Homo sapiens: one gene and its partner. The protein of the gene in region 2 interacts with the protein of the main gene of each other region in a biochemical or structural test. Each region holds a gene or a part of one and is shown on either strand. Other genes may lie near its edges. The genes, in order: EN2 and EIF4E.

Region 1 (4,314 bases), on a different chromosome or scaffold from region 2:
TCAACTAGGGTGCTGGGGCTGTGCCCAGCAAGAGGTGGGGGACGAACTGGAGGCCCAGGGTGAATGCCAAGCACTCCCTCATGGCCAAGTGAGTCTTGTGCTCTCTCCAGGAGACAGGCCTGGAGAAAGAGGATCTGTGGGCACCACCTCAGGAGCACCAAGGGCAGCTTTTAAAGCAACCCATAGGCAGGCTCACCACCCATGAGAGCACACACCCTATACTTGGGCACCCACCCCATGCACACGTACACACTCAGTGCCTGTCTTGCTCACGCCCAGGGCTCCAGGCCAGTGGGCCTGGCTTTGGTAGGGGTAGGTGCAGATTTGGAGATGGGGTTGGCCCTCCGGAACGGTGGTGGGGGATGGGGCACAAGGCTCCAGGAGAGGCCCCAGCCTCCTGCTCCCAGAGCCCATCTCTGTCTGGGTTTCCAACCACTCCCTTCCCCAGAACTCTACCCCCAAACTCTTCTGGTCCTGGGGCTCTTGTTAATGCACTCATGAAGCAGCCCGCAAAAGGACACCATTTTATGGCAATAAATTTCCCTAAAATAATAATTTTTAGGTTTTTTTCTTGATTTTCTTTCAAAAGACAAATACTTAGGAGTCTCAGAAACAGAATCAAACCTCCCCAAGAAAACTCTCTCTCCCCTTTCTTTCGGAGAAACCAAAGAACAGAAACATTATCTTGCAGGGATATTTTAAAGCCCATGAAGATAGGCGACTTGGGCTGGGCTGAGCTGGGCCGGGCCAGGCCGGGCCGGGCGGTGCTGCCCAGCTCCCGGGCCGTTGGGGGCTGGCTCAGCGAACTCCCGCGCCGCACAAAGCCCGGCCGAGTCTCCTCGCCCGGCATTGTGAGCCTGTATGTTAATTAAATATTAACAAAGGAGGAAGACGAGAACAATGGAGCAAATTTCAGATCTAGCTGAGAAATCTGAATTTCATCAGAAATATGCACGCATAGTTCTGCGGGATGGCGGCCCAAGGGTTGGCTCACTCCTGCTGTGATCTGGGCAAATGACCCCCGCAAAATAGTTGAGGGTTTGGGGGCAGCGGGGATCCGCTGCCAGCTCGGGGTCAAACAGTCCACTTCTAATGGCGGTTCCCAGCCGCAGACCCGCATGGAATGCAGTTGATGATTTCTACAAGGACATGGACTTAGTTTTTTAAAATCGCAGATCTATGAAAAAATATATCCAGCATCTCTGCAGGGCCCCTGCGAATGCTGCCTCTTTCCCATCAGCAGCCCCCAGGAAACCCTGAGAGAAGGTCCTTTCTATTTGGGGATGGCAGGTGCCGGGAGGGACGGCTGCCTCCCTTGTCCTCGCTGTGTGCAGGAAGGGGGCTGAGCCCCACCACTGCGGGCTGGCGCTGGCAAACAAAGTGGAGCCAAGGGGAAAGGGCGCCTTTATTTTCCTCCTTCCCTGTGTGCATCCTCCTGAGTCCCACCGGTCAGCGCAGGCCCGAGGGGCAGAAGGCAGAGCGGCAAAGGGCCTCGCCTTTTCTTCCCCGAGCACAGCCGGGATAACCGGATGGTAGGACAAGTCTGGGGTGGGCTGGGGCATGCGTCCCCGGCCTGGCCTGAGTTGGAAGATCGTAGGGAAGGGGATGAGAGTGTGCACTTCCGGGCCCATCTTCCAGCCACCACGTTCCCACCAAAAAAAACTACAGTGGGGGAGACATGGGCTAGGGGCTGGGAAGAGATGCGCCAAGGCGGGGTGGAAGACAGAGAGGGGAGACAGGGAGAGAGGAAGGAGAGAGAGAGACAGAGAAAGAAAGAAGGTCCCTTCTGCGGTCCTAAGAAGTCTGTACCCCCTAGCGAATCAGTCCTGCCGCTGGACTCCTGGCCGCTGCCCGGGCCGGCGTCAGCTTCACACAATGTCGCGTGAGTCTTTGTGCGTGTGCGCGGGGGAGGTTCGAGATGTTTTCCTCCCGGTAAGTTCCCGCGCCAGCACCGCCCCCCAGCTCCGCGGGCCTCCCCGCGGCGAGCCGGGACGCGTGGTCCCCGCGGGCTCACCTGAAGAAGGCCGGTCCGAGTAGCGCGTACAGTAGACCCACGCCGGCCAGAGCATGGGCTGCGCGCCCAGGTTGGCGCCGGCTTGCGAGCTGTCCGAGTCCGAGCTCACCGACAGGTCGCCGCCGCCCAAGCCGCGGGCCTTGAGCGACCCGTCCAGGGGGCCGCCGGGGTCGCCGCCTTTCTTGGCGCCACCGTGCAGCGAGAGCGTCTTGGAGCCGCCTTCCCCGTCACCCGGAGAGTCGCTGCCGGCGGCTGGGAGCGGCCCGCCCGCGCCGGGCGCACATGGCGGGTTCTGCCGGGGCTCTCGGGAGCCCGAGCCCAAGAGCTGCTCCGAGCCGCCCGCGCCGCCGCCTCCCTCCGCACCGCTCGCGCCGCCTTCGCCGCCGGCTCCGCCGCCCCTTCCTCCTCCCGCGCCCGCACAGCAGGTCCCCGCGTCCTTTCGCCGGCCGAACTCGGGCCGCAGGATGTTGTCGATGAAGAAGTTGGTGATGCGGTGCGGGTGCTGGTGGTTGCCGGGCGCCTGCAGGACCGCGGGCAGCATCAGAGCCCGCCGGCGCCCGGTGTCCGCTTCGCCCGGGCTGCTACCGCCGCCGCCGCCCGAGCCGCCGCCGGGGCTGGATTCCGGCTGCCGCTGTCCCTCCACCGCCGCCGCTGCTTCGCCAGGCTTGGGGTCATTCTCCTCCATGCTGTTCACAGTAAATCCCACACTGGTTCTCCGGGGACGCCCTTCCAAATCAGCCTTCGGCCCTCCCGCGGCGCACACGGAGACCCCCGCGCCCCCACCCCGCCGAGTCTTCCGAGGGCGTGCGCGGCGGCCGCGGCCAGGGCTGAGGTCCTACAAGTCGCCGGCCGCGCTCGGCGCGGAGCCACCTTTGAATCCACGAACTGGGTTAGAAACACCACGAGCCGCCCCGCTCGCCCAGACGATGAGAGATTCAACAGAGCCAAGTCCTCGACTTCGCCGCGCAGCCGGGGTCTAGACAGTCGCAGTGGTCCGGCGGGGACGCGGGCCGCCTCCCGGGCTCCCCGCTCCTCTCCGCGTCCGGCCGCCTCGGGCTCCGGCGCCGCCGCCTGGGCCGCCCGGGGCGAGAGCTGCGCGCATGCAGGCAGCGCGTTCCCCGGCGCTCACGCCCGCCCGGGCCGGCTCCGGCCGCCGCCGCCGCCCGGCCGTCCCCGCCCGCACGCCCTAGCCGGCCCTCGAGGGTGCCGGGCGCCCGCGGTCAGCGCGCCCGCCACCGCCCGCACGCACATGGAGGCCCCCTCCTCGCGGCCGCCGCCCCGCTGCGGGCCGGGGCGCCCCACCGGCGTGCGGCCGCGCCCCCGCCGAGCCCCGCAGAGCTCCGCGGCCCGAGTCGCATGGGTGAGAGACGCGAGGCCAGGGCCCGGCCGGGCCGGGCTGGGCCGCCCGCGCTCCCCGGCCGTCCGCCGCCCTCGCCGCCTCGGCCTCCGCGCGGGCTCGGAAATTTCCAGGCCACTCGGCGCAACCTGAGACACTTTCACTCTGGATTTTTGTTCTTATTTTTAACAGAGCCCCCTCGAGTGACGTCGCAGGCCGGTCTCCTGGACACGTGCCTCGGGCCAATGGCCGCGGCGCCGCGCGCCCACGTGACGCTCCGGCCGCCGCTGGGTGACAGGAGCAGCCCGCCGCCCCTCCTCCCCTTAAAGCGGCCGCGTCCCCCGCTCCGGGTGCGGGAGCCCAGGAACCCGGAGAGACCCCCGACCGCGTCTCCTGCGCTCGCCCGCGCTTTCCCTGTCGCTTCGCGGTTCAGGGGTGTGAGTCACCCGGCGACAGCCCCGCCAGGTCACCCCGGGGCGCGTAGGTGGACACGCACAGGAAGATCGCTATTTTTAAGATTTCCATATTGTTTACCGTGGGGCGAAATCCCACAATTCCTTGCACAAAATGCATAAATAATATTAAATGAGCTGCCGAGATACAAAGGGACTTTTGTGGTCCGCTTTCCTTGCTGATGGAGAGGAATAGTGTCACTCCCATTTGACTCGGTAACCCGGCAGCTTCCTGTCTTAAACGCAGAGCTGGCGCGCAGGACACTCCTCCTGCAGACACTTATTGTAAGTGTGCGTGTGTGTGCGTGTGCAGGGAGGCGCGTGCATACGGCCGCATTCCACCCGGGGACAGCGACCCTCATGAAACATGCTTAGCGATCCGAAAGAGCGGGGGAATGCAGTATGCGGCTCCATTTGCGAAGGGAGAAATCCAGGAGCCTCGGAGGTTCTAAAGGAATCCTTTTTGCCAAGGAGAGGAGGGGTGACTGTTCAGCTAAGACTTCAAAACCAAG
Region 2 (3,809 bases):
TACTTTTAATATACCCTTGTGCACAGGCTAGTTATGTGGAATTATTTTTGACAGTTTTAAATAGTTGGATTTTGTGTGTAGGGGTGCAGGATCTTGCTCTGTTGCTGGGGCTGGAGTGCAGTGGCGCGATCATAGCTCACTGCAGCCTCAAACTCCTGGGCTCAAGAGATGCTTCCATCTCAGCCTCTGGTGTAGCAAGCACTACAGGAGCAGGCCACCACGCCCGGATAATTTTTAAACTTTTTGTAGAGATGGAATCTCGCGATGGTTACCCAGGCTGGTCTCAAACTCCTGGACTCAAGTGGTCCTCCCACCTTGGCCTCTCAATATGTTGGGTTACAGGCGTGAGCCACCGAGCCTCGCCTGGATTTTTTTTTGAAGCAACTGATTAGAATTGGATTGTACTTGAGATACCCCTGCTGAAGGCTGCAAAAATCATGTTTTTTCTTACTTCAGCTAGTTTGTGAGCTTCCATAATGGTTTTCTGCTGTGCATAATCATAAACACTTAAAAAGAGCCATGGGCTTTTCCTGCTTATCCCATCATGCATAGGTATCTGGATGATTTTTGTCTATGGACATTACATAAAATATCATTTTCAGTTTGATATTATTGTGTGGTTTTCTCTTTGTATGAGTTGAGTTACATGAAGATGTGGCCCACAAATATTAAATTTGTTGAGAAGCTTGAAAGGGAAAATTAAGGGAAACATTTTACCTCTTAACGGATAATTTGGCAAAAATTTGAACGTTAGGGCAAACGGTACTCTGATGTTATTCTATCGGCATTTGAATTGTGGCTGGGTCAAAATTAGGTTTAATATTAGTCTGTGAAAATGGCAAGGCCATCTTACCTCCAGTAGGTCGTGTTTCTTTGTAGCTTTATCTTCATTCTACATCGTTCATTATTAGAATTAAAAAAATTTTTTTTTGACTTGTAGTTCCTTTTGAGGTAAGAGATTAATTTTGATTTCTTTAGCTTAACTGAAAGTGTATAATTTTACTTGTTTTTACATTGTAGCTCTTGAATTTTTTGAAACCACGCTAATTTCATAAGTGAATCAACTTGGACAATCAGCTAATTTAATGCTTCCTTTTTTATACTTTGGAAACATGCTCTGTACTACACAGCTTATTAATAAGAGTAAATAAGGTTTATATACATATTGACAAATATTTGTTGTACTATATAATTCATATTAATGAACAATTGAATGCCAACCAGACTATGCAAATTAGTGGACTTTTTGCTTAATGAAAGAACCCACTATATCAGAGTTCCTCGATAATCCACGTAAATTTGGCTCTGGGGTTCATATTCCAGATTTCTTCAATTAAAAGAAAAAAATATACTTGCTGAGTGCGGTGGCTCACGCCTGTAATCTCAGCACTTTGGGAGGCCGAGGCGGGTGGGGATCACTTGAGGTCAGGTGTTCGAGACCAGCCTGGCCAAAATGGTGAAACCCTGTCTCTACTAAAAATACAAAAATTAGCCAGGCCTGGTGGCAGGCGCCTGTAATCCCAGCTACTGGGGAGGCCAAGGCAGGAGAATCGCTTGAACCTGGAGGTGGAGGTTGCAGTGAACCGAGATGGTACCACTGTACTTCAGCCTGGGCGACAGAGCAAGACTCCATCAAAAAGAATAAAAAAAAAAACAGAAACAAATTTCACACTTCATTTTATAATCTGAGTTAATGAGCATGATTATTAGACTTAGAGAAATTCAATGTAGACACACAGTTTATACACAGAAGTTGCAGAGGGATAATATGCAAAATGAATTATGTAAGCTTACTCTAGTTTGGACAGAAAACTGTAGGCAAAAAACATTTAAGTAAAATATTGTTTAATTTACATAAAGTTAAGAATATGGGCCGGGTGCGGTGGCTCATGCCTGTAATCCCAGCACTTTGGGAGGCCGAGGTGGGTAGATCACCAGGTCAGTAGTTTGAGACCAGCCTGATCAACATGGTGAAACCCCACCTCTACTAAAAATACAAAACTTAGCTGGGCGTGGTGATGCGTGCTTGTAATCCCAAGGTACTCAGGAGGCTGAGGCAGGAGAAGCTCTTGAACCTGGGAGGCGGAGGTTGTAGTGAGCTGAGATTGTGCCACTGCACTCCAACCTGGGTGACAGAGCGAGACTCCGTCTCAAAAAAAAAAAAAATAAACAAAAGAAGTTTCCTTAATCTATTAGTACCGGTGAGTTGCACCATCTTAGTCATAGAGACTTTTTTGAGAAGTGGAAATGAGCATGGGTTATAGTCTCATCTTAATATCTGAGTGATCTTGAAGACTGAAATTTCTAAGTCAGCTGAAAGTCGGAATAAGATATATTACGGTGATTTCAATTTTTAAATGCAGTATTCAAAGGTGACAGTTTGTCAACTGTAAGGGACTAAAGTTGACATTCCATGAATGTTTTATACTCATGTATATCCATGCATTTACATACTATTTTCCCTCTTTTCTTGGAAATTCACATTGCTGCTTTTTAATTATCAATCCTTAGCCATTAGCAAGAAATGCAAAGCCTGTGATTCACAATCCTAAGATGTTCTTCCCACTCCTATCCCTACCATAAAAATCACTAGTGTTCCTTCAAAAGTCCCTAATCATGTCTCCAGAAAAAGAAAGGGGCTGGGCTTGGTGGCCCACACATGTAATCCGAGGCTTTGGGAGACAAAGGCAGGAGGATCACTTGAGCCCGGAGTTTGAGACCAGCCTGGCCAACATGGCGAGACCCTGTCTCTCCAAAAAATTAAAAAATTAGCTGAATATGGTGGTGCACACCTGTGTCCTAGCCTCAGGAGGCTGAAATGGGAGGATCCCCTGAGCCTGGGAGGTCAGAGCTGCAGTGAGCTGTGATCACACCACTGCATTCCAGCCTGGGTGACAGAAAGAGACCCTATCTCACCAAAAAAAAAAAGAAAAAGAAAATGATTTTGCGTGTGTGTGTGTGTGTCTAAAATACTAATAGTCATTTCTGGGCACTTCTGGAACCTGAGAATGTGGTCAGAAATATAAGGGGTTTTTTTTTTTTTGTTTCCCCAGTTGGAACTTTTGATACATTATTCCATAGAAACAGTAGGAAAATGGGCCGGGCGTGGTGGCTCACGCCTGTAATCCCGACACTTTGGGAGGCTGAGGTGGGCGGATCACCTGAGGTCGGGAGTTCGAGACCAGCCTGACCAGCATGGAGAAACCCTGTCTCTACTTAACAAAATTACAAAATTAGCTGGGTATGGTGGCACATGCCTGTAACCCCAGCTTCTTGGGAGGCTGAGGCAGAAGAATCGTTTGAACCTGGGAGGTGGAGGTTGCGGTGAGCCTATGTCTGCCATCGCACTCCAGCCTGGGCAACAAGACTGAAACTCCTTCTCAAAAAAAAAAAAAAAGAAAAAAGAAAAAACAGGAAAATGAAGTTTAGTCACACTATATTCAGTAAATTTTTGTGGAATCATTACAAATCTAACCAGCATTGGATTTATAGGGATATGGAATTAAGGATATGGATTTATAGTTGTAAGCAACTAACTAAAAAAACCTTATAAACATACCTTGTTTGTAACAGCTATTTTTAATGTAGAAAGATCGTTATTTGTAATTGCTACACATAGCACTTATTCTATGTTAAGTACCACACTGAATGCTTTACATATATTAACTCATTTATTTCTTTTTTTTTTTTTTTTGAGACAGCGTCTCACTGTTGTCCCAGCTAGAGTACAGTGGCGCGATCTCGGCTCACTGCAACCTCCGCCTCCTGGGTTCAAGTGATTCTCCTGCTTCAGCCTCCTGAGTAGCTGG

The links.
Region 1: the proteins of EIF4E (region 2) and EN2 form a complex in vitro, tested with the Homo sapiens proteins (one study listed by BioGRID).

The regions. Positions count from the first base shown.
Region 1 is NC_000007.14:155,456,763-155,461,076, reverse strand, and holds the start of EN2 (homeobox protein engrailed-2), read right to left. Parts: upstream 2,949-4,314; 5' UTR 2,700-2,948; coding exon 2,015-2,699; intron 1-2,014.
Region 2 is NC_000004.12:98,922,439-98,926,247, reverse strand, and holds part of EIF4E (eukaryotic translation initiation factor 4E), read left to right. Parts: intron 1-3,809. UniProt on the Homo sapiens protein: Acts in the cytoplasm to initiate and regulate protein synthesis and is required in the nucleus for export of a subset of mRNAs from the nucleus to the cytoplasm which promotes processes such as RNA capping, processing and splicing.